Linked DNA regions of Homo sapiens: all the other regions are linked to region 1. The links come from fine-mapping of genetic effects on gene expression. A gene starts in region 1. Each other region holds a variant in brackets. All regions are shown on one strand. Distances are from middle to middle.

Region 1 (8,176 bases):
GAGCCACTGCACCCAGCCTTTATCACCTTTAGAATCCACTGCGTAGACCCTGTAGAAACTGCCCCTCTGGGGAAGGCCCACAGCCTGAGGGTGCTTTCCTGGGAAGGTGGGCAGTGGAGGACTGTGATGTCTAACCCTTCTGGACCCTGGCCAACCTTTGCCCTGCCCCTCAGGGCTGGTCTTTCTCCTGATCACTGGCCAGAGCCCCAGAGACCCCAAAGAGAAGACAGCCAGTGAGACGGCTTTGACCTGTGGAAGAGCAAAGTACCTGCAGGACTGGCCCTCAGCAGTCTGTCCCGTGGAACAATGGTCTTCCAGGTCTGACGGTCTACCCAGCCCCCTGGCATCCTCCTCCTCTCTCTGCGGTGGTGCTGTGATCACAGCTGGCCCTTTAAGTCAGCTCTGTGTCCTCGGGCTCCCCCAGAGGCCCTCCCTGCTTGGAAACCCCTAATTAAGGTGCAGGGAGAAGTAAAAACAAGCAGCCAGAGACAGGCCCTGCCTGGGAGGCTGCCCAGAGAGGAGGAATGGCTGGACAGGCAGGGAGTGAGCAGCTGAGGGACCATCACCAAGGGTCAGTGCTGTGCCCCCCAGGCCACCGGCACTCTTAGGACAGGTAGCTCTAGACAGAAAAGTGACCAATGTGGGTCCCAGGAACACTCCCCTCAACTCGATAAGCGTCCGGACTAGACCTTCCCATCTCCCCCCAGCTTCTCTGGATCCCCAGGGTGCAAGATCTGAATTCTGGGAGCTCAGCCCCTCCTCTCTCAGGACACTGCTGCCCAGCCTGTGGACAGCCTTAGCTGTGACTGCAGCATGGAGTTTCAAGGGGAAAGGACTGGCTCCAACTGAGCAATGGCTTCTCCCTAGCAGGCGCCATATCCCTTGGGACCTTTCCCTCATCAGAGGTGGGGCCTGTTTGATGGCAAAAGTCCCATCCCTCTAGTAACATTGCCCCGCACCCGCTGTGCCTAATGAGCTGCTCTGGCCCCCATTAGGAAGCCGGATGATGCCTAGGAGAACTGGACATGAAGAACAGATGTGAGAATGCTTCCCCAAGACTCCGTGGTGCAGGACATTGGGGGCTGCCATTCAGCTTGGGCTGAGGGCACCTCCATCTGTCTGTGGGGGTCTCCCTGCCTGAGTTACTCAGCAGTCTGAGTAATTACTGCCTGACAAGAAGGCGGGCACAGTGCACCCCCACAGTACACCACAACACCCGCCTTCACTCGCCCCCACTCCCTGGCTGGACTCCAAGGCAGCACCCAACCCTCCTGAGGCCTGAAATAACTCTGCTTCTCACACTCACGCCCAGCCCCAGCCAACTTTTCCTAAGACGCTAGAGTTTGTGGGCTAGGGGGTCATGGGGAGGCGGCTTGGAGAGGTGGAAGGAGGATTATCCCACATTCAGGCCCTGAGTCAGGCCCACACTTTATCGCTGATCTGTGATGTGACGTTGAGCAAGTTGTTCATCCTCTCTGGGCCTCGGTGTACTTACAGAGGACCTCTCAGGCTCCCAGTGTCAGGGCTAAGGCAGGCAGTGGGGTGAGCACTGCCTTGTAGCTGGTGGCTAAGAGAAGGAATACCTCACCTTCTGTTCTACGCCAAGAGGGACCAATCTTTTTTTGTTCGTGTTTAACTGCTCCTGTGGCCATGGGCAGTGTGCCCAGAGTAGCAGCCATCCATCTTTTTTTATCTTTAAACATTTTTTTGAAATAGAGATGGAGTCTCACACTGTTGCCCAGGCTGGTCTCAAACTCCTGGCCTCAAGCAATCCTCCCACCCCAGCCTTCCAAAGTGGTGAGATTATAGGTGTGAGCCCATGGTCCTCAGGAAGGACCAATCTTATCTATCTTCAGAACAAGGTTACTTCTCACCTTCAAGCATCTACGTGGAATGCCCTTCCCCCTTCTTAGTGTGGTGAACTCAGCCTTCAAGACCTAACTCCAAGGGCACCTCTTCTGTGACTGTTTCCTGATTATCTGGTAGCCCCTGGCAGAGCTAGCAGAGCCCTTTCGCAGTCTTTGTGACTTCTGTCAGTCACACTCTAAGATGGTTTGCGGGTCTTTCTTTTCCCACGACACCTGAAGCTTCTGGAAGTCCAAGCCCAGAGCCTTAGCTCAAATCTGAAGCTTCAGTGCCACCAAATGCAGGTGTGAGTGAATACGTCAGACTGGCCTTCTTTTTTTTTGTTTGTTTTGTTTTTTTGAGACAGTCTCGCTCTGTCACCCAGGCAGGAGTGCAGTGGTGTGATCTCGGCTCATTGCAATCTCCATCTCCTGTGTTCAAGAGATTCTCCCGTAGCCTCCCAAGTAGCTGGGATTACAGGCGCACACCACCACGCTCGGCTAATTTTTGTATTTTTAATAGAGACGGGGTTTCACCTTGGCCAGGCTGGTCTCGAACTCCTGACCTCAAGTGATCTGCTCAGCCTCCCAAAGTGCTGGGATTACAGGTGTGAGCCACCGCGCCCAGCCTGGCCCTTTTTTTTTTTTTTTTTTTGAGACAGAGTCTCACTCTGTCACCCAGGCTGGAGTGCAGTGGCGCGATCTCGGCTCACTGCAACCTCCGCCTCCCGGGTTCAAGCGAGTCTCCTGCCTCAGCCTCCCGAGTACCTGGGATTACAGGCGCCTGCCACCATGCCCGGCTAATTTTTGTATTTTTATTAGAGACCGGGTTTCACCATGCGGGCCAGGGTGGTCTCGAACTCCTGACCTCGTGATCTGCCTGCCTCCGCCTCCCAAAGTGCTAGGATTACAGGCGTGAGCCACCGCGCCCGGCCCTGACCTTCTTTTTGACCTTCCTATCATGTCACCTTTTCCTACAAGGAGGGATTCAGTTGGATTTCTGCTTGGATGTCACCTGCTCAGAGCAGCTTTCCTTGACTGCCACCTCTACCCCCGTGTCAGCTCCAGAACAATACTCTGCTTGTTTTTCTTCGAAGCACAATCTTCCCATCTTCTCTGGACTTTCCTCATTTGGCCCCTATTAAAATGGAAACTCCTTGAGGACAGGGCAAAGACAAGTCTTTTTCGTCTGCTGAATTTTCAGGAACAGTAGTGCCCCACACATGCTGAGCCTTCGGTGAATGTGTGTTGAATGACAGCCTTGGTCCATCCGCTTTTTCTTCTCTCCGAATCCCTCTGATCCCAGGCCAGCAGGGGGTGCCGCCTCCACCCAGGATCTCGCCTGGCCCGAACCTTCTCTTCCCTCAGCTCAACAGGCCCCTGCGGGACCCGCTTTCCAAGCGGCGCCTCCTCCATTTTCCGCGAACCCCCCGGCGGGGTCTGTGTGGACCAAGGGAGATCAGAGACCCCCCGCCGCCACCCCACCCAGGCGGAGACGGCCCACCCGAACCCGCACGGGTCCTTCCTTCTCCCTGGAATTTGCAGCTGGCCCTTTCCGAATGCTTGCTCCCCTCCTCTCCCCACGAAAGAACAGTGTCCTGGGACTCGGGGTGCGGGGCAGCCGGGTTCGCTGGAGCTGTTCAGTGCGGGGAAGAGCCGTCGAGACTGGGAGAAGGGGCGCTGGCCAGGGAGGAGACGGGGCAGGGAGCGGACTCGCGATCCGTACTCTGGGCGGCGGTCCTCGCGTCCCAGCCGCGTCTCCCGATGACCTCCAGCCGCGAAGGGCGAGCGGGCGGGGGCTGGGCTGCGGGTTCGGGCTCCAGGAGGCCTGCGGGGCCGGGGAGGGGCGTGGAGTGGTCCGAGGACCGGCTTGGGGACTGGGGGCAGGTGCCTGGACGGACGCGGGCCGAGCATCTTCCCCGGGGGCGGGCGCAGTGAAAACACCTTGGGAGGCGGCGCCGCGCGGCTGAGCGCTGCTGCCTTGGGAATAGGACGGCGCTCGGCACTGCGAGCTGAGAGCACTTTCATAAATTTTGTATGGGAGGCGCTCCGTGAGCGGGGGCGGGGAGCGGAGCGAGAGGGAGGGAGCTAGAGAGCAAGGGAGGGAGGGAGGAGGAGAGGAGGGGGAAGCCGGGGGGAGGAAGGGAGGCGCCCCGCTCCGCCGATCGCTCGGTCCTGCAAACGCGCGCCGGGCGCTTTCCCCGGAGCTCGGCGGTGCGTGCGAGCGCCCTTTTGCTGCAGCCGCGGCGGCGGTGGTCCGAGGGGGCGGAGAGGAGGGGGCTGCGGCCGGCCGGCCAGGGGGCGGCGTCCCCCCTCAAAACCGCCTGCGAAGTGCTCCGGGTGGCAGAAGCAGGCCGCCGGCTCCGCGGAGCAAGCCGCTCGCCCCGGGGCTGAGCAAGCGCGCGGGGCTGCCGGGCAGCACCACGGTTGCTTGCGGGCGCCGGTGCCCTCGGCGCGGGGCTGGAGCTCACCATGCCCCTGCGGGGCCGGGCCACCGGGCACGAGCGGATCCCCGGCTTGCCCCCGCCTCGACGCGCTCGGATTAGCTGCAGCTGGCGCCCAGGGATTTGAATCTGGACCCCGGGAGGGAGTGCGCCTAGGCCGACCTCGGAGCGGCGGCCCCGTGGCCAACATGCTTCGCAAAGGTGAGTTGGAGCCGCAGGGGCAAGTTGAAGTTGAATGCGCTCCGGAAAGAGCCGCGAGCCCGGGCGCCGCCCGGCGCCGGGGCTCCCGGTCTGGGAAGTAGCCCCCGGCGGGCTGGTGGGTTTTGCCGGGCGCACCCGCCGAGGGGCTGCTGCTGGGGCTCAGCTCCCGTCAGCGGCCAGTTGTGAGACACGGGGTTTTCTCCATGGATCGAGTGGCCAGGCCTAGAGATCCGGCCCGGAGGGGTCAGTCGGAGACCAGAGTGAGCGGCCGGTGGTGGAAGGGGAGCCGGCCTCCTGGGACCTTTGCTTTGCTGGGATAAAGTTTTGCACTTGCAGCCTCCATTCCCTGCGCGGGCACACGCCCTTGCTTCTGCCGCTTTGTGGAGGCCGAGTCCGCACGGCGCCCCCGTGCAGCCAGCGGTCAGTGACCGCGCGGCCCGGGCGCTCCCCGCGCGCCCTAGCTCCCCAGACGGGGCCCGGACGCGGACGTCTTCTCTGCAGTTCTGCTCTGATCGCTAGGGATGGGCTCTGGGCACCCAGCGGCTGAGGGTGGGGAGCGGCCAGCGCCTGATGTCCAGTTCCTCAAACTTTCATTATGCTGGGAGCGGAGGGACGCGAAAGCCGTGCCGCCAGTGTGCGCGACCGGTGCACAGCTCAACTTGAGGACAGCTGGCTTCGCGACCACCGTAGCTAGACGCCCCAGCAGCCCGGCCCGGTACGGAGCGCGGCAAAGTTGGTGCGGGCACCGGGGAAGTCCCGCCGCGCCCCCACGTGGTTGCCACGCGGGGCGCCGTCCCCCGGGCCCTGGGAGGGCAGGTGATCACGCCGGGAGCCCACGGGCCCCGCCACCAGCTGTTCCAGCCTCTGCGTCTGCCTCTCCCCTCCCAGGCCCGAGCAGGCTGTGGCGCCCCGCCGGGATCCCCCCCGCGCCTGGCCCGGCCAGGAGGCTGAGAAGCCGCGGCGCCTGCGGCTGGCTGCCCCGGCCCTGCGGGAGCGGCTGAGGCGGGAGCTCAGGTAGCCGAGGGGCCTGATCCCTGCGCTCCACGCTCCAGCCTTAATCCGCCCCTGTTTCCATGGCAACAGACCGAGGTGTCGTAAGCACAGGATTCTGACCTCACAGCAGGATGGGGAAGGAGAAAACGCGCACGGGGAGGGGGTGGAGGGGGGGGAGGTTGGGGAGGTGGGGGGAAGCGAAGCCCTAAGATGGGCGGAGAGAAGCAGATGTGGAGGTGATGGCGAAGACCCAGATATAAGCAGGTCAGGCAGGTGGGTGGAGGAACCACGCCTTTGGTGGGGCAGTGAAGGCCGTGTGGTGGTCCTAGCTTGGGCCGACCGAGGAAGCTGAGTTGCCCCGTCGTCCTGGAATAGTAACAAACTTGTGTGTGACTTGTGCCCTCCACGTGGGTCGGTGCAGTTCAGGGGGAAACGCCGGCTGCCTTCGCTGTGGTATGGAAGAGTTTCTGGGGCTAGTTGGAGAAACCGCTTCGCAGACACACCCCAGGTTCTCCTTTTCCCTGCAGAAAGGGACAAAAAGTCCTTTCAGCAACCGAGCAGTGCTGGCCAAAGTGTCTTTGCACAGAGAAGGTGCTTTTTACAGAGCTGAGCAGAAGCCCGGGTCTGAGAAACTTGGGCCTGGAGCGTGCAAACTTGCCCCGGTCGAGAAGGCTTCCCAGACAGCTCTGAGAGGCCGCCATGTCTGGGCTGCAGGTCTGTGATAGGGATAATGGAGAGGAACTGACATCTCATTTCCCTTTTGGTCTTTTGTCTTTTGGCAGTTTATAGTTAAAAATGAGCCACCAAGCAGCCCACACACTTTATTTATATGGTTTAGGTGCCCAAGGAGGCTCCAGCAGCCTCCAAGAGCCTTTCTCTCCCACCCTGGCTAGCCAGAGGCCCAGCTGTGGATGAGCACAGTGCACTGTGGGGGCCGCTCCCCGGGGGGAGGCTCCTTACCCTGCACAAGAGGCGGCCACCGGAGGCTTAGCAGTCACGTGTGTTTGCCACTCGGGCTGTTTCTTCCTTCCTGCACAGCCTGGTTGGCTGAAGAGGTTCCACCGATAGGTTTCCACCTGGATTGGCCCAAAGGAAGCAGAGCAGAGAAGCCCTTCACTGGGCTGGGCTCAGCCTGGGTGACCTGGAGACCGCCCCTAGGGCATCGTGTGGACGGGTGACTTGTGTTGGTTCTTTCCTGGGCAGGCAGTTTTCTCTCTTGGCCCCAGATCCTGATCTTTTGGATTAGTTTCTTCTGCACACCTGTATAGGACACTCAGATTCTCTGTATGGATTCTAGGTAGGCGCCCAAAGCCAAAAGCATGCCTGAGGCTAATGCCCAGGGAGGTGGCCATTGAAGTGTCTGCTTCTAGAATTCTTCCCAAAGTTTCCAAGCGAAAATGATACAGGAGGCCAGGTGTGGTGGCTCATGGCTGTAATCCCAGCATTTTGGGAGGCCGAGGTAGGAGGATCACTTGAGACCAGGAGTTCGAGGCCAGCTCGGGCAACAGAGTGGGACTTCGTCTCTACAAAAAAAAATTTTTTTTGAGACAGAGTTTCACTCTGTTGCCCAGGCTGGAGTGCAGTGGTGCAATCTCAGCTAACTGCAACCTCTGCCTCCCAGATTCAAGCAATTCTCCTGCCTCAGCCTCCCAAGTAGCTAGGACTACAGGTGCACGCCACCATGCTTGACTCATTTTTTGTATTTTTAGTAGAGATGGGGTTTTGCCATGTTGGCCAGGCTGGTCTCAAACTCCTGGTCTCAAGTGATCTGCCCACCTCGGCCTCCTGAAGTGCTGGGATTACAGGTGTGAGTCACTGCACCCGGCCAAAATTTTAAAAAATTTGCAGTGGCATACACTGGTGGTCCCAGCTACTTGAGAGGCTGAGGTGGGAGGATCACTTGAGTCTGAGAGGTGGGGGCTGCAGTGGGCCGAGATTGTACAACTGCCCTCCAGCCTGGGGGACAAAGCCAGACCCTATTTAAAAAAAAAAAAAAAAAAAAAAAGACCGGGCACAGTGGCTCACACCTGTAATCCCAGCACTTTGGGAGGCCGAGTTGGGAGGATCACCGGAGGTCAGGAGTTCGAGACCAGCCTGGCCAACATGGTGAAACCCCGTCTCTACTAAAAATACAAAAATTAGCCGGGCGTGCTGGTTCATGCCTGTAATCCCAGCTCCTTGGGAAGTTGAGGCAGGAGAATTGCTTGAACCCGGGAGGCGGAGGTTACAGTGAGCCAAGATCGCACCACTGCACTCCAGCCCAGGAGAAGATGCGAGACTCTGTCTCAAAAAAAAAAAAAAAAAAAAAGGTATAGGATGTGTTTAAATAGTTCTTGCTGTTTTCTTGCCTATAATATGCAGAGCCCTATGTGGGGTCCTGGACCTGAGGGAGTGTAATAATTTAATTATGATTCTGAAAAGGGTTTGAAAGATGAAGAAAGGGTAGCCCTCCCTAGATCCTGTGGGAAGGAGGGAAGAGAAAAAACCCCTCATCTTTCTGCAAAGGGCAGGGCTCATGGTCTTGATAATGGGGTGCCCTATGCAGTGAGGGGTGCAGTGGTATGAAGCCCCAGAGGAGGAGGAAGGCGGAGCACACCTTGGGCCATAAGGATCATCTCTCTGATTCCTGGTTGTCCTAGTAAAGCTGTCCCCTGGCATGACATTTTGGGAGGACTGAGGGGGACTGCCTTGCAT
Region 2 (8,176 bases), 140 kb after region 1:
TAACCAGGATCTGACTCAACTTTTCTGGAAGGTATTTACTATGTTAAAAAAGCATGCCTGTAATAATTCAGGTTGTTTCAGGGACACCTCCCGACCTAAGTCATCTCAGGCACACTAGCTCTGATGTGCTAATAGGAACAGGAGAAACGGGTGGCTTCGATTTAGAAAGTGCTTTGGTTTTAAAGTACTTTTATATACATTATTTCACTGTTAAGCACATCCCAAATGGACAAGATTAGATAACATCAGATGAGCTCTTAAATAATTATCAGGCTGAGAAACTGTATACAAACAATACCAAAAAGAAACAAACTAAAAAATATTAAACAGCAAAAAGAGGGCCAGTGTTGGGCAAGGTGTGGTGGCTCACACCTGTAATCCCAGCATTTCGGGTGGCTGAAGCGGGCAGATCATGAGGTCAGGAGTTCGAGACCAGCCTGGCCAACATGGTAAAACCCCGTCTCTACTAAAAATACAAAAACTAGCCGGGCATCGTGGCGGGTGCCTGTCATCCCAGCTACTCAGGAGGCTGGGGCAGGAGAATCACTTGAACCCGGGAGGCGGAGACTGCGGTGAGCTGAGATCGCGCCACTGCACTCCAGCCTAGGAAACAGGGCAAGACTCCATCTCAAAAAAAAAAAAATGTGTGGGGTCAGTGTTATAGAATGAGAACCATTAAAAGTTATAGAAGTTATAATAAAATATGTGGCTGACCTTGTCTTTTAATTCCCCAAGATAAGCAGCATTTTGTCCAAGGATAGCTTCAGCAGACTCCTGGAAACAAGTCACCCACTGATTCTCTTGAAAATCTGCAATATTTACCTAAAAAACACAATTCTACATTATTTCAGCAAAGAAATAATAAAAAGACACACTGAGAAGATGGGGAGAGGTTAATGTTCTTTTTCCACTTATTAAAATAATTTCCAGAGAGGGCCAGGTGCAGTGGGCTCATGCCTGTCATCCCAGCACTTTGGGAGGCCAAGGCGGGTGGAACACTTGAGGCCAGGAGTTTGAAACCAGCCTGGCCAACATGGTGAAACTCCGTCTCTACGAAAAATACAAAAATTAGCCAGGCATGGTGGCGGGTGCCTGTAATCCCAGCTACTCAGGAGGCTGAGGCGGGAGAATCACTTGAACCCGGGAGGCGGAGGTTGCAGCGAGCTGAGATCGAGCCACTGCACTCCAGCCTGGGTGACAGAGAGAGGCCCATCAGATTAGTTCCTGTCGAGGTGCAGCTGGCTTTGGATGAAGGGTTTTGAGTGAATCGGGGGAGTTCTCTGCATTTTCAATTGCCCACTCTGTAGTTCCTAGGAGGAGTTCCATGAGACGGCTCTGTCACTGCTGGGCACCCAGACAACTGAAGAGCCTGCCCGTGAGCCTCTGTCAGTCACCAAATTGACCTGGCAAAGGAAATGAGCAATCAAATGTCTCCCACTGGGCTGTGGTGTAACATTAAACAGGGCAAAGTCAAGGAAGAAAGCAGATCTCAAAGAATCCACTTGCTGAAGTAAAAGCCTTTGTAGAAACACGAGTGGTTTTTCTTTAAGGCATCATTTTGACGATTTTACATCTTCATTTTGCATGGGTACAAGGCTTTTAATAGAGAGAATGTTATGACGAAAAATAAGGTGACGAAACCAGTTAAAAGTGAAAAGCGCTCTCAATACACAGCAACGGTATCACACCCTGGGCTCACACTTCCTTTAACCCACGCTATCCTTCTAAGAAGCAAAGAGCATCTCATCACACAGGGCAAGAACTACAATGACGCACACGTGTGATAAATATCAAATCAAACAAGTGTGCGGGAGATTGCGCTGTGGAGTTTAACAGAAAGGCTGATGTTTCCACAAACTAAAACAAATTTTCTTCATCTTAGTTCAATGAAAAGTTTATAGTTTACAAAAAATGAGCCTAAACGTAGAACTGTCCTGCTAAGCTAACATTTCATTTTATTTATCATTTATTAATTTAATTTATTTATTTATTGAGATGGAGTCTTGCTCTGTCACCCAGGCTGGAATGCAGTGGCGCGATCGTGGCTCACTGCAAACTCCACCTCCCGGGTTCATGCCATTCCCCGGCCTCAGCCTCCCTAGTAGCTGGGACTGCAGGTGCCCGCCACCACGCCTGGCTAATTTTTTTGTACTTTTAGTAGAGACAGGGTTTCACTGTGTTAGCCAAGATGATCTCGATCTCCTGACCTCGTGATCCGCCTGCCTCAGCCTCCCAAAGTGCTGGGATTACAGGCGTGAGCCACCGTGCCCGGCCTATTTATTTATTTTTTAAAGACAGGGTCTGACTCTGTCACCCAGGCTGGAGTGCAGTGCCACGATCATGGCTCACTGCAGCCTTGACCTCTCGGGCTCAAGCGATCCTCCTACCTCAGCCTCATGAGTAGCTGGGACAAGTGCATACCACCACAGCCAGCTAATTTTACTTTTTGTAGAGACAGGGTCTTGCCATGTTGCCCAGGCTGATATCGAACTCCCAGCCTCAAGCAATCATCCTGCCTCAGCCTTCCAAAGTGCTGGGGTTACAGGCACAAGTCACTGCGCCTGGCCAATATGAACATTTTTCAGGCTTCTGATATATTACTGCCAAATCATCCTTTGGAAAAATGTGAAACTGTTTTCTTTTTCTCTTTTCTTGAGATGGAGTTTTGCTCTTGTCGCCCGGGCTGGAGTGCAGTGGTGTGATCTCGGCTCACTGCAACCTCTGCCTCCCGGGTTCAAGCGATTCTCCTGCCTCAGCCTCCCGAGTAGCTGGGACTACAGGCACCCGCCACCACGCCCGGCTAATTTTTGTATTTTTAGTAGAGACAGGGTTTCACCATGTTGGCCAGGCTGGTCTCAAACTCCTGATCTCAGGTGACGCACCCGCCTCGGCCTCCCAAAGTGCTGGGATTACAAAAGTGAGCCACTGTGCCCGGCCTTAAACTGTTTTCTTAAACTGCTATTATCGCCTAGTTCTATCATTGAAAACAAAACAAAACAAAATAAAAATCTTAAGGCCGGGTGCAGTGGCTCAGGCTTGTAATGCCAGCACTTTGGAAGGCTGAGGTGGGAGGATGACATGAGGCCAGGAACTTGAGACCAACCTGAACAGCAGAGCGAGACCCTGTCTCTACAATAAAATAATTTTAAAAATTAGCTGGGTGTGGTGGTGCACAGCTGTAGTTGCAGCTACTTGGGAGGCCAAGGTGGAAGGACTGCTTAAGCCCGGGAGGTTGGGGCCACCATGAGCTGTGATGATACCATTGCACTCTATTCTGGGCAACAGAGTGAGACCCCTGTTTCTTAAAAAAAAAAAAAAATTTTTTTAAACCCAACTTTACAACTTTTTTAAAAAGGTTTTTAAAACAGAAAGAAACAATTCTTAAAATGCAAAAAAGCAACAATCTCACATCAGCACACCGTCACATTCCTCTGAAGTCAGCTATACTAAAGCTAGAGAATAGATTATCCACATGAAAGTGACTAAATACGGGCATTGGCTGTGTAAGTACAATTAGTGCTGTCTATAAATGCCGTTTTCAAATTAATTTATCTTCATAGCAGTTA[G/TCAG]CAGGCAAGTGTCACTGACGCTATGGCTGTATGACGTGCATGAAAGACTGAATCAGCTGGGGTATCTCAACACCACTTTCTGGCATGAAAAAGCGGATGGATAAGCTCTTCCACACCTACTCATCTGCGGGCTTCCTACCAGGAATGCTTTGTCTCTACTGTTGTGACCACAGTGCCTGGCACACGGGAGGGCCTCCGTGAACACAACCGTGGTTCTCATCTACCGAGGCTACTTACTGACAGGATCATGCGGTACTTGAAATTGGGAAATTCGGTGTCGCACTTCTCACAGCGGTACAATCCATTCTGTTGATCAATCACTTTCTTATTGCAGTCCTGAGTCGGGCAGGCTTGGTACATGCAGTTCTCTTTGCGAAGATACACCACTGTGGCCACAGAACTAAAGTAGTCCGGCTTCGGGAGAAAAGAACAGCATGAGGCACGGAGTCGCGAGCCCGCCCAGGATCGGACCGAGAGGCAGCTCAAAGCCTGCCCTTACGTTTAGGTGGTAAGTGTTTCTACATCCTCAAGATTACACATGATCACAGGGAATCATTCATTCTGTAGTTTTAGAAATCACATGTGCCGAGTACAAAACCCATGAAGGTAATAAGCCAAGTTCTAATAAGCCAAGTTCTGAGGCAGATAATTCCTTCACAATAAAAGAGTTAATCCTAAATTACACTAAGTTAATTAAAAGTGAAATTGTTTTCCTGTTTGCTTGAACACTGTATGAAAGACAAAGATTTGTTCCTCCCGATCCTCTGACCCTCCAAAGGCCACAGATCTAGGAAATACAGAATGCGGACCACAAACACCCAGTGCAGCAACGATCAACCATCCCTCCCGCGCTCAAAACACGGCAGTCGTGTCTAGGCCTAGATTCACCTTTTCCTTGTTTAGGCCAGGGATCAGCAAGCTGCTTCTGTAAAAAGCCAAACAGTAAATATTTCAGGCCTTAGCAGCCATTTGGTCACAGTCTCTGCTGCAACTACAGACACACCTCACTTTATTGTGCTTTGCTTTACTGCACTTGACAGATACGGCATTTTTTACAGATTGAAGACTTGTGGCACCCCTGGGTCAAGTAAATGCACTATTTTCCCAATAGCAGGTGCTCACTTTATGTCTCTGTGTCACATAAAGACAGTAATTCTTGCAAGATTTCAAACTTTTTCATTATATATGTATTTTTTGAGACAGAGTCTCGCTCTGTCGCCCAGGCTGGGGTGCAGTGAGTGGTGTAATCTCTGATCACTGCAGCCTCCACCTCCCAGGTTCAAGTGATTCTCCTGCCTCAGCCACCCAAGTAGCTGGGACTACAGGCGTGCACTACCACGCCTGGCTAATTTTTGTATTTTTTAGTAGAGATGGGGTTTTGCCATGTTGGGTAGGCTGGTCTCGAACTCCAAACCTCAAGTGATCCACCCACCTTGGCCTCCCGAAGTGCTAGGATTATAGGAGTAAGCCACCATGCCTGGCCCTTTTTCATTATTATCATATCTGTTATGGTGATTTTTTTTTTTTTTCTGAGACGGAGTCTCGCTCTGTCACCAGGCTGGAGTGCAGTGGCATGATCTCAGCTCACTGAAATCTCCGCCTCCCAGGGTCAAACGATTCTCCTGCCTCAGCCTCCCGAGAAGCTGGGACTACAGGCATGCACCACTACGCCCAGCTAATTTTTGTATTTTTAGTAGAGACGGGGTTTTAACCACGTTGGTCAGGATGGTCTCGATCTCCTGACTTCAGGTGATCCGCCTGCCTCAGCCTCCCAAAGTGCTGGGATTACAGGAATGAGCCACCGCGCCTGGCCTACAGTGATCTTTAACGTCACTATTGTAGTTGTTCTGGGGTGCCACCAACTACACCCATATAAGATGGGGAACTTATATTGATGAATGTTGTATGTATGCTGACTGATCCTCCAATCAAGTATTCCTGTCTCTCTTCTTTGAATACACAAATAAGAAAGCAAACAGCCTTACTGCTGATATGGAGTAAGCTGTAGTGGTCTAGATAGAATATCAAGCAAGCCACAACATTCTCTTAAGCCAAAGCCTAACCCAGAGCAAGGCCTCACCTTTCTTCAATTCTGTGAAGGCTGAGAGAGGTCAGGAAGCTGCAGAAGAGGCCAGGTGCAGTGGCTCACACCTGTAATCCCAGCACTTTGGGAGGCAGAGGCAACATGATTGCCTAAGCCAAGGAGTTCGATACCAGCCAGGCAACATAGTGAGACCTAGTCTCTACAAAAATCTGTCAGGGCACGGTGGTGTGCACCTGTAGTCCCAGCTACTCCAGAGGCTGAGGTGAGCTGTGATTGCACCACTGCACTCCAGCCTGGGTGACAGAGTGAGACTCTGTCTCAAAAAAAAAAAAAAAAAAAGCTGCAGAAGAAAAGATGGCAGCCAGCAGATGTTGGTTCATGAGGTTTAAGGAAATAAGCCGTCACCATAACAAAAGTGCAAGGTGAAGCAGCAAGTGCTGATGGAGAAGCTGCAGCAAGTTATCCAGAAGATCTAGCTAGGACCACCAATGAAGGTGGCTGCACTCAACAACAGATTTTCAACGTAGACAGAATAGCCTTCTGGAAGAAGATGCCATCAAGAACATTCGTCCTAGAGAGTAGAAATCAATGCCTGGCTTCAAAGCTTCAAAGGAAAGGCTGACTCTCCTGTTAGGCGCGAATGCAGCTGGGGACTATAAGGTGAAGCCAGTGCTCATTGACCATGTCAAAAATCTTAGGGCTCATAAGAACTATGCTAAATCTACTTTGCCTCTGCTTTATAAATAGAATATCAAAGCTTGGATGACAGCATATCTATTTATAGTGTAGTTTATTGAATATTTTAAGCCCACTGTTGAGACCTACTACTCAGAAAAAGAGACTCCTTTAAAAATATGACTGCTCATTGACAATGCACCTGTTCACCCGAGAGCTCAATGGAGACACACAGTACGAGGAGATTAATATATTGACAATGCACCTGTTCACACAAGAGCTCAATGGAGACACACAGTACAAGGAGATTAATATATTGACAATGCACCTGTTCACCCAAGGGCTCAATGGAGACACACAGTACAAGGAGATTAATATATTGACAATGCACCTGTTCACCCGAGGGCTCAATGGAGATGCACAGAACAAGGAGATTAATATTGTTTTCATGCTTGATAACAACATCTATTCTGCAGCCCATGCAAATCAAGGAGTAATTTTGACTTTTTAAGTCTAAGAGACATATTTCATGAGGCGATAGTTGCCACAGTGATTCCTCTGATGGATCTGGGGAAAGTAAATTGAAAACCTGAAAAGGATTCACCATTCTAGATGCTATTAAGAACAGTTGGCTGGGCACAGTCGCTCACACCTGTAACTCCTGGCACTTTGAGAGGTTGAGGCAGGGAGATCCCTTGAGCCCAGGAGTTTGAGAGCAGCCTGGGCAACATGACACAACTCAGTCTCTACAAAAAATACAATTAGCCAGGTGTGGCAGCACCTGTAGTCCCAGCTTGGGAGCCTGGGGAGGTTGAGACTGCAGTGAGCTGTGATCAAGCCAGTGCACTCCAGCCTGAGTGACAGAATGAGACCCTGTCTCAAGTTAAAAAAAAAAGGAACATTCATGATTCATGGGAGGAGATCAAAATCCCAACATCAACGGGAGTTTGGAACAAGTTGATTCCAACCCTCAAGGTAGACACTGAGGCTTCAAGACTTTGGTGGAGGAGGGATCTGTAGATGTGACGAAAATAACGAGAGAACTAGAATTACAAATGGAGCCTGAAAATGGGCCTGAACTGCTGTAATCTCACGATCAAACTTGAACGGATAAGGAGCTGCTCCTTACGATGGGCAAGGAAAGTGCTTTCTTGAGATGAAATCTCTTGTGGTGAGAACGCTGTGAGCATTGTTGAAATGACGACAAAGGATTTAGAATTTGCATAAGCTTGGCTGATAAAGCAGTGACAGGACCTGAGAGGGAGAGACTCCAGTTTGAAAAAGTTCTCCTGTGGGTAAAATGCTGTCAAACAGCATCGCCGGCTATGGAGAAAGCTTTTGTGAAAGGAAGAGTCAACCAATGTGGCACACTTCACTGCTGTCTTATTTTAAGAAACTGCCAAAGACACGCCGATGTTCAGCAACCATCGCCGTGACTGCTCAGCCATCAACCCTGAAACAAACCCCCACCAGCAAGAAGATTACGACTCAGATGATTGTCAGCATTTTTCAGCAATAAAGTTTTTGTTTCAAGAGAAGGGGTCTTCCATGTTGCTCAGTCGAACTCCTGGGCTCATGTAATCCACCTGCCTCAGCCTCCTGGGTAGCTGGGATTACAGAGAACCGAAAGAGTGGGTGTCCCATGACAGGACAACGAGGATCTGTCCAGTGTTTAATTCTTGAGATGTTCTATAAGAGCACTTAAGAGCTGCTGTTGACAATGATGGATAAGGGTATACAGTGAAATGAGACAGGAGGAATGAAACCTACACTGTATATGATGAAAATAAAAGAGCAGGCGTAAAGGAGAAATAAATGATCTAAATACTAAACTGCTGGCAGAACACAGGCTTAGATCAAGATGGGAGGAGGGTCATTAAATACAAACACT
Region 3 (8,176 bases), 100 kb after region 1:
TCCACAAAGTAAAGGAAGATAGTGGACGCCTGGAATCCCAGCACTTTGAGAGGCCAAGGCAGGAGGATCTCTTGGAGTCAGGAGCTCAAGACCAGCCTGGACAACATAGCAAGACTCCGTCTCTACAAAAAATACAAAAAATGGCTGGGTGTGGTGGTTCATGCCTGTAATCCCAGCACGTTGGGAGGCTGAGGCGGGTGGATCACGTGGTCAGGAGTTCAAGACCAGCCAGGCCAAGATGGTGAAACCCCCTCTCTACTAAAAATACAAAAAATTAGCTGGGCGCAGTGGCAGGCGCCTGTAGTCCCAGCTACTCAGGAGGCTGAGGAAGGAGAATCGTTTGAACCCGGAGGGTGGAGGTTGCAGTGAGCCAAGATCGCGCCACTGCACTCCAGCCTCGGCGACAGAGTGAAACTCTGTCTCAAAAAAAAACTAAAAATAAAAATAAATAAAAAATAGGTACATTCTGGGCTGGGTGTGGTGGCTGACACCTGTAATCCCAATGCTTTGGGAGGCCAAGGAGGAAGGACACTTTAGACCAGGAGTTCAAGAACAGCCTGGGTAACATAGCGAGACCCATTTCTACAAAAAAAAAATTTTTTTTTTTTTGAGACAGAGTCTTGCTCTTGTTGCCCAGGCTGGAGTGCAATGGCGTGATCTCAGCTCACTGCAACCTCTGCCTCCTGGGTTCAAGCGATTCTCCTGCCTCAGCCTCCAGAGTAGCTGGGATTACAGGCACATGCCACAACGCCTGGCTAATTTTTTTCGCATTTTTGGTAGAGACGGGGTTTCACCACGTTGGCCAGGCTGATCTTGAACTCCTGACCTCAGGTGATCTGCCCACCTCAGCCTCCCAAAGTGCTGGGATTACAGGCATGAGCCACCGCGACTGGCCAATTTGTTTTTTTCTTTTTTTCTTTTTCTTTTTTTTTTTTTTTGAGACTGAGTCTCTCTGTGTTGCCCAGGCTGGAGTGCAATGGCGCAATCCCGGATTCGAGCAATTCTCCAGCCTCAGCCTCCCGAGTAGCTGGAACTACAGGCGCCTGCCATCACGCCCGGCTAATTTTTTGTATTTTTAGTAGAGACAGGGTTTCACCATGTTAGCCAGGATGGTCTCGATCTCCTGACCTCGTGATCTGCCTGCCTCAGCCTCCTGAAGTGCTGGGATTACAGGCGTGAGCCACTGCGCCCGGCCTTTTTTTTTTTTTTTTAGACGGAGTCTCGCCGTGTTGCCCAGGCTGGAGTGCAGTGGTATGATATTGGCTCACTGCAACCTCTGCCTCCTGGGTTCAAGTGATTCTCCTGCCTTAGCCTCCCATGTTGGCCTTGGTTTTAAGCCCAGGAGTTTAAGACCAGCCTGGGCAGCCTAACTGGCTGTAGAGCCACCATGCCTGGCTCTACAAAAAAAATTGTTTTAATTAGCTGGGCAGGCTGGGCATGGTGGCTCACTCCTGTAATTCAAGTACTTTAGGAAGCTGAGGCAGGAAGATCACTTGAACCCATAAGTTTGTGACCAGCCTGAGCAACATAGATGGCCCAGCTACAAAAACAAAACAAAACAAAACAAAACAACACACAGGGCTGGGTGCGGTGGCTCACGCCTGTAATTCAAGTACTTTAGGAGGCTGAGGCAGGGGGATCACTTGAGTCCATAAGTTTGTGACCAGCCTGAACAACATAGACGGTCCAGCTACAAAAAAAAAAAAGAAAATAGGCTGGGCACAATGGCTCACGCCTGTAATCCCAGCACTTTGGGAGGCTGAGGCAGGTGGATCACGTGAGGTCAGGAGTTCGAGACCAGCCTGATCAACATGGAGAAACCCTGTCTCTACTAAAAATAAAAATAAAAATAAAAAAAAATCAGCCGGGTGTGGTGGCGCATGCCTGTCATCCCAGCTACTCGGGAGGCTGAGGCAGGAGAATCGCTTGAACCTGGGAGGCAGAGGTTGCGGTGAGCCAAGATCGTGTCATTGCATTCCAGCCTGGTCAACAAAAAGCGAAACTCTGTCTCAAAAAAATAATAATAATAAAATAAAATAAAAAATAAATTAGCCAGGCACGGTGGCATGTGCCTGTGGTCCCAGGTACCCAGGAGGCTGAGGTGGGAGAATCACTTGAGCCCAGGGGTTCAAGGGTGCAGTGAACTGTGATTGTGCCGCTGTACTCCAGCCTGAGTGACTGAGTTAGACCCTGTCTCAAAAAAAAAAAAAAAAAAAAATTAGCTGGGTCTGGTGACAGTTTTAGGCCTCTTCTCAAGAGCTTTTGTGAATCCCGGGACTGTCCTTGGAATTTATATTTTCTTTTCACTGTTTTTGCTCATTTGAAAAATTGTCTCAAAATTTTCATGTTAATTTCAATCAAATATGTCTACTTTTCTTATTTGGAATATTTTCATGGATTTTAATATTTTGTTTCCAATTTTAAATGGTCTAATAGCAAATTGGCTTAAAAACTGAACGGGCAACCACTAATTCATATATCAATTTATCCTAGGTGATACTACAACATTTTACAATGTGTCTTAGTTTTTTTCTTTTTATTTGGAAATACTTACAGGTTCACAGGAAACTGAAAAAAAGAAAGCAGCAGGGAGGTCCTGGAGCCCTTTCACCCAGTTTCCCTCAATGGTAATATTTTGCGTAACTCCCTGTTAATTCACCATAAAAAAAATATATTTTGGGCCGGGTGCGGTGGCTCAGGCCTGTAATCCTAGCATGTTGGGAGGCTGAGGCGGGCAGATCACGAGGTCAAGAGATGGAGACCATCCTGGCTAACACGGTGAAACCCCGTCTCTACTAAAAATACAAAAATTAGAGCCAGGCGTGATGGCGGGCGCCTGTAGTCCCAGCTCATCGGGAGGCTGAGGCAGGAGAATGGCTTGAACCCTGGAGGCAGAGCTTGCAGTGAGCCGAGATCGAGCCACTGCACTCCAGCCTGGGCGACAGAGTAAGTCTCCATCAAAAAAAAAAAAAAAACTGGGCCTTTTCATCTCAGAAGTTCCTTCTCTCTCACTAGAGAGAGAGCTGTTTACCTTTCTCCTTTCTCTTTCTTTTGCCTATTAAACCTCTGCTCCAAATATATATATATATATATATATATATATATATATATATATATATATATATATATTTTTCAGTTAGTGATATTAATTTTACCTATTTGGGTAAAGTTTCCACATATTCAAACAACTTTGATAAGGAAAAAAATAAAGCTTCCAACAGGGACAAGGAAGGAATAGTCCTTTTCTTTTTTTCTTGGATATTTATGAATGAAATTTTAGGATTTTAAATGTCATTATATCATTGAACTGAGAAGTGGAAAATGAGAAGTGTTTGTCCAGATGCAGGATTATTGGCCAGAGTCCCCCTAACAAGTTTGGGGAGATGAAGGAGGTGTTCACAAACCTCCTGGAATTCAATGCAGGGCCCCTGGAATGTGCAGGTTTCCAGAGAGAGCTTTCTTTCTCTTTCTGTTTTTTTTTTTTGAGAGGTAGTTTCACTCTGTCGCCCAGGCTGGTGTGCAGTGGCCGGATCTCGGCTCACTGCAAGCTCTGCCTCCTGGGTTCACACCATTCTCCTGACTCAGCCTCCCGAGTAGCTGGGACTACAGGCGCCCGCCACCACACCTGGCTAATTTTTTTGTATTTTTAGTAGAGACGGGGTTTCACCGTGTTAGCCAGGATGGTCTCATCTCCTGACCTCGTGATCCACCTGCCTCGGCCTCCCAAAGTGCTGGGATTACAGCTGTGAGCCACCGCGCCCGGCCAGAGAGAGCTTTCTTTTTCTTTTTCTTTTCTTTTTCTTTTTTTTTTGAGACACAGTCTTGCTCTGTTGCCCAGGCTGGAGTGCAGTGCCACGATCTCGGCTCACTGCAACCTCCACCTCCTGGGTCCAAGTGAGTCTCCTGCCTCAGCCTCCTGAGTAGCTGGGACTACAGGCGCCCACTACCACACCCAGCTAATTTTTTGTGTTTTTAGTAGAGACGGGGTTTCACCATGTTAGCCAGGATGGTCTCGATCTCCTGACCTCGTGATCCGCCCCTCGGCCTCCCAAAATGCTGAGATTACAGGCGTGAGCCACTGCGCCCAGCCAAAAGCAGATGGAGTCTCACTCTGTTGCCCAGGCTGGAGTACAATGGCACCATCTCGGCTCACTGCAGCCTCCACCTCCCGGGTTCAACTGATTCTCCTGCCTCAGCCTCCCAAGTAGCTGGGATTACAGGCGCCCATCACCACGCTTGGCTAATTTTTGTATTTTTAGTAGAGGCAGGCTTTCACCATGTTGGCCAGGCTGGTCTCAAACTCCTGACCTCAGGTGATCCACCCGCCTCGACCTCCTAAAGTGCTGGGATTACAGGCATGAGCCACCGCGCCTGGCCTTTTTTTTTTTCTTTTAATTAATAAATAAATTAATTTATATTTTTGGGACAGGGTCTTCCTCTGTTGCCCAGGCTGGTCTCAAACTCCTGGGCTCAAGCGAACCTCCTGCCTCAGCCTCCTGAGTAGCTGGGCCCACAGGTGCAGGCCAGCACGGCCTTTTCATCAGATCCTGAAAAAGGCTAAGAACTGGCCCGGACTCCTTCGTTTCACCCTCAGCGGCTCCTCCGCAACGCCGCCTCCCACCTGGCATGTAGGTGGCACTCCGCCTGGGGATGACGAGTCCTTG[G/A]CAGAACCGGCTTGTGGAACAGCCAAGGCTGCGGCGGAAATAGTCGCTCTTGACCAGTTTGTCCTTTTGACCAATTTGGTTTCGACCCAATCGTCTACTCCTCCACTCTGTCACACAAGGAAAACGGGGCGGGGGTGGTGGGGGAAAGGATGGAGCGGCTGGTTCCAGAAGACGCCAGCAACGGAATTTTAAACCCAGGCAATCTGCTTCCTTGTCATCCTAAAAGCTGTGGCAACTGGCAGGCTCCAAGCTCCCTGGGAACACTGGCTTCCAAATGCTAGTTTGGAGACAAGGGGAGCCTGTGATTGCGATTTTACCGATTTGCAACGAAACATTAATGTATTGAGTTTTTTGCTAAGCCAAATTTATTCCATCTAAAGATAATCCTTTATTCTGAAATCATGTCCTTATTTTTTTTTTTCCTTTGGTTTGGGGAGGGAGAAGGGTGTTCTAAAAAGATCTTTCTTTGGCCGGGCGCAGTGGCTCACGCCTGTAATCCCAGCACTTTGGGAGGCCAAGGTGGGTGGATCACCTGAGGTTGGGCGTTCGAGACCAGCCTGGCCAACATGGTGAAGCCCCGTCTCTACGAAAAATACAAAAAAAATTAGCCAGGCCTAGTGGCGGGTGCCTGTAATCCCAGCTACTCGGGAGGCTGAGGCAGAAGAATTGCTTGAACCCGGGAGGCAGAGCTTGCAGTGAGCCAAGATTGCACCATTGCACTCCAGCCTGGGTGACAGAGTGAGACTCTGTCTAAAAAATAAAAGTAAAAATGATCTTTCTTTTCTGAACCAACGGGACTGGTACATAGCAGCTTCTGTGTCTTGGGGTCTCTCATTGGCCAAACAAAATGCTGGCAACCCAAGGCAAGCCCTCCAAATTCTTTCTGCAACCCTACTGCTCTGTGCATGCAAAAACTCTGGGAAGGGTGGTTGTGGAGGAGTCTGGCAGTGCGGCCCTTGCCTTATGCTGTTCCCAGCCCCAACCCAACCCCACTTGGGCCAACGGCTCTGCTCACCTGTGCCAGCTCCGTGTGCATGGCCTCCTTCCTCCTTATCACCTGCCTTCCATTATTTGCAGATAATTATCTGCAATAACCAGCCAGTTACCCTTAAAGACAATTATATTCTCTCTCTTTTTTTTTGATACAGAGTCTCGCTCTATTGTCCAGGCTGGAGTGCAATGGCATGATCCTGGCTCACCACAACCTCTGCCTCCAGGTTCAAGAGATTCTCTACCTCAGCTTCCCGAGTAGCTGGGATTACAGGCTCCTGCCACTGCGCCCAGCTAATTTTGTATTTTCAGTACAGACAGGGTTTCACCATGCTGGCCAGGCTGGCCTTGAACTCCCAACCTCAGGTGATCCTCCCGCCTTGGCCTCCCAAAGTGCTGGGATTACAGGCGTGAGCCACCACGCCTGGCCAACAATTATATTCTTCTATCAGCAAACATTGATGTTCTTTTCTTACATCTTTTAATGAAGCTGACATTAGGGAGATGTTTCATTTTCATAAAGTCAAACGGCTGCCTTTTAAGAGGGTTTGGGTTCCATGTTAATGTTTCAAAGCCTTAACTAGGGGATGGGTGTTTGGTGGAAGTAGAAAAGGAATTAGGAGGACTTCTTCCCTGTTGGTCCAAGAGGAGCTGCTTTGAGAGGTCAGATGCCCAGGGGACCCGGTACAGCGTGCCAGCCCCCCTCCCCAAGCTAATGAGCTCTAAAAGTATCAATGCGATGAGCTCAGCCCTGCAAGTGAAATCATTCAGCAGTGCTGCTCTCATAGCTGTGCCTGCCTCTCACTGACCACGGCTTAAATCCTCCCTCCCTGCAGCCACCTCTGGGGACCTCCAGAGCTAATTGCTTCAGGGAGCTTCATTGAAATGAAGCACCCTCAGCTGCTCATAAAAGCTTTATCGTGGGCGAAGGCTGACCCAGACGGAACAGTAGCATCTATCTCCCAGGTCAGGGGGCCAAAGGCGCCGGCCGAGGCAGGATCTAGGCTTACAGAAATAACTCGGTTAGGTATTAAAAAGCCGGGGGCGGGGGAAGAGGCTGTAATTTTATCTCTTCCCGAGTGCCCCTCTCTTTACAATTTGGGCCTTACCTGGTGACTATGTGTACTTGAGTCACTCATTGTGGGCCAAACAACCTCAAGATGCAATTTCTTTCAAAGGTAGAAAAAAAATAAATAAACGAAAGTCTGCTCCTGCTGGGTTTATAAAGAGCTGTTTTCTTCCTGAGCTCTGTGGCATGGTGGCTGTAATCCGGAATTTCTTTTTAATCATAGCAGGAGTCCCAATTAGCGTGTTGGGTAATCTTTCAAGTAGAACTGGGAGCTCCGTGACCATAGAGAGCCGAGGAAATGTTACATGTGAAGAAGCTCTGGAGGGACAGGGCCGAGAAGGCAGTGCTGTCAGGCCGGTGCACACACGTATGTCAATCACGTATGTCAATCACGTATGTCAATCAACGTGCATTTGCAGGCTGGATCCCAGTCCCAAGAGCAGGCGTGTGCACCCTGGGTTTCTTGACCCCCAGTTCTATCATACCTGGACCAGAAGGAACGTATGGAGTGTACGTGGTGTTCCCCTTGGTGCAGAAACCCCAACGCTGCCCCGTCCGTGAGCCAGCATGCCAACATACAGGCCATGCACGCATACCTACCCCTTCCCGCTAAGAACACAGGGCAGGAACCAAGCTGCATGTGTGAGGCTGTGGCGCAGAGTTTGGGGCGCCCCCGGCTCTCCATGAGATGGGCCGCAGCCCCGGACTCAGCTGGCACCGGGGCCCAGCTCCGATCCGGTACGCCGGTGACCTACTTTCCTTTGTTGTTGTTTTTGGAAGTGCTGATGTCAATGCAGAATTCAGCAGAGAAGCTGAGTGAGAAAAAAAAAGAGAAGGGGGTAGAGAGAGAAGAAGGGAAAGAACCAAGGGCAGGGAGAGCGCCAGATAGGGATGGTGGTGGCAGGTTCTCTGCAACAGGGCTAACCTCCTACTGCCACTGTCCCTACAGGGCCCGCCTACTGCCACTGTCCCTACAGGGCCTGCCTACTGCCACTGTCCCTACAGGGCTAACCTCCTACTGCCACTGTCCCTACAGGGCTAACCGCCTACTGCCACTGTCCCTACAGGGCCTGCCTACTGCCACTGTCCCTACAGGGCCCGCCTACTGCCACTGTCCCTACAGGGCCTGCCTACTGCCACTGTCCCTACAGGGCTAACTGCCTACTGCCACTGTCCCTACAGGGCTGACTGCCTACTGCCACTGTCTCTACAGGGCCCGCCTACTGCCACTGTCCCTACAGGGCCTGCCTACTGCCACTGTCCCTACAGGGCTAACCTCCTACTGCCACTGTCCCTACAGGGCTGACTGCCTACTGCCACTGTCCCTACAGGGCCCGCCTACTGCCACTGTCCCTACAGGGCCCGCCTACTGCCACTGTCCCTACAGGGCCTGCCTACTGCCACTGTCCCTACAGGGCTAACCTCCTACTGCCACTGTCCCTACAGGGCTAAC

Alleles and levels. Alleles are on the strand shown, and positions count from the first base shown. SD is a standard deviation of normalised expression in the study named.
For the expression in atrial appendage of the gene that starts at base 4,008 in region 1, TCAG is the high allele of the variant in region 2 and G is the other (moderate effect, 0.44 SD a copy in GTEx).
As copies of A replace G in region 3, the expression in caudate of the gene that starts at base 4,008 in region 1 goes up (small effect, 0.36 SD a copy in GTEx).

What was found. PIP is the estimated chance that this variant, and not a neighbour inherited with it, causes the effect.
Region 2: its variant is fine-mapped to the expression of RTN4RL1 in atrial appendage (GTEx, PIP above 0.99).
Region 3: its variant is fine-mapped to the expression of RTN4RL1 in caudate (GTEx, PIP above 0.99). The same link has a PIP of 0.9 or more in cerebellar hemisphere and cerebellum.

The regions. Positions count from the first base shown.
Region 1 is chr17:2,021,166-2,029,341 of GRCh38, reverse strand. It overlaps RTN4RL1 (reticulon 4 receptor like 1), which reads left to right and starts at 4,008. Exons shown (of 2, transcript NM_178568.4): 1 at 4,008-4,489. The coding sequence starts at 4,477. LOC105371486 (a long non-coding RNA gene) reads left to right here and starts at 5,660. Exons shown (of 4, transcript XR_001752746.2): 1 at 5,660-5,746. RefSeq lists enhancers at 2,947-3,447, 4,616-5,161 and a silencer at 6,380-6,559.
Region 2 is chr17:1,884,479-1,892,654 of GRCh38, reverse strand. It overlaps RPA1 (replication protein A1), which reads right to left. Exons shown (of 17, transcript NM_002945.5): 14 at 3,804-3,980; 15 at 715-822. Among named protein-coding and RNA genes, the nearest start is that of RPA1, 59 kb to the right of the region's middle. The variant G/TCAG (reference allele first, on the strand shown) is at 3,567.
Region 3 is chr17:1,917,737-1,925,912 of GRCh38, reverse strand. No RefSeq gene overlaps it. Among named protein-coding and RNA genes, the nearest start is that of RPA1, 92 kb to the right of the region's middle. RefSeq lists a silencer at 3,618-3,800. The variant G/A (reference allele first, on the strand shown) is at 4,665.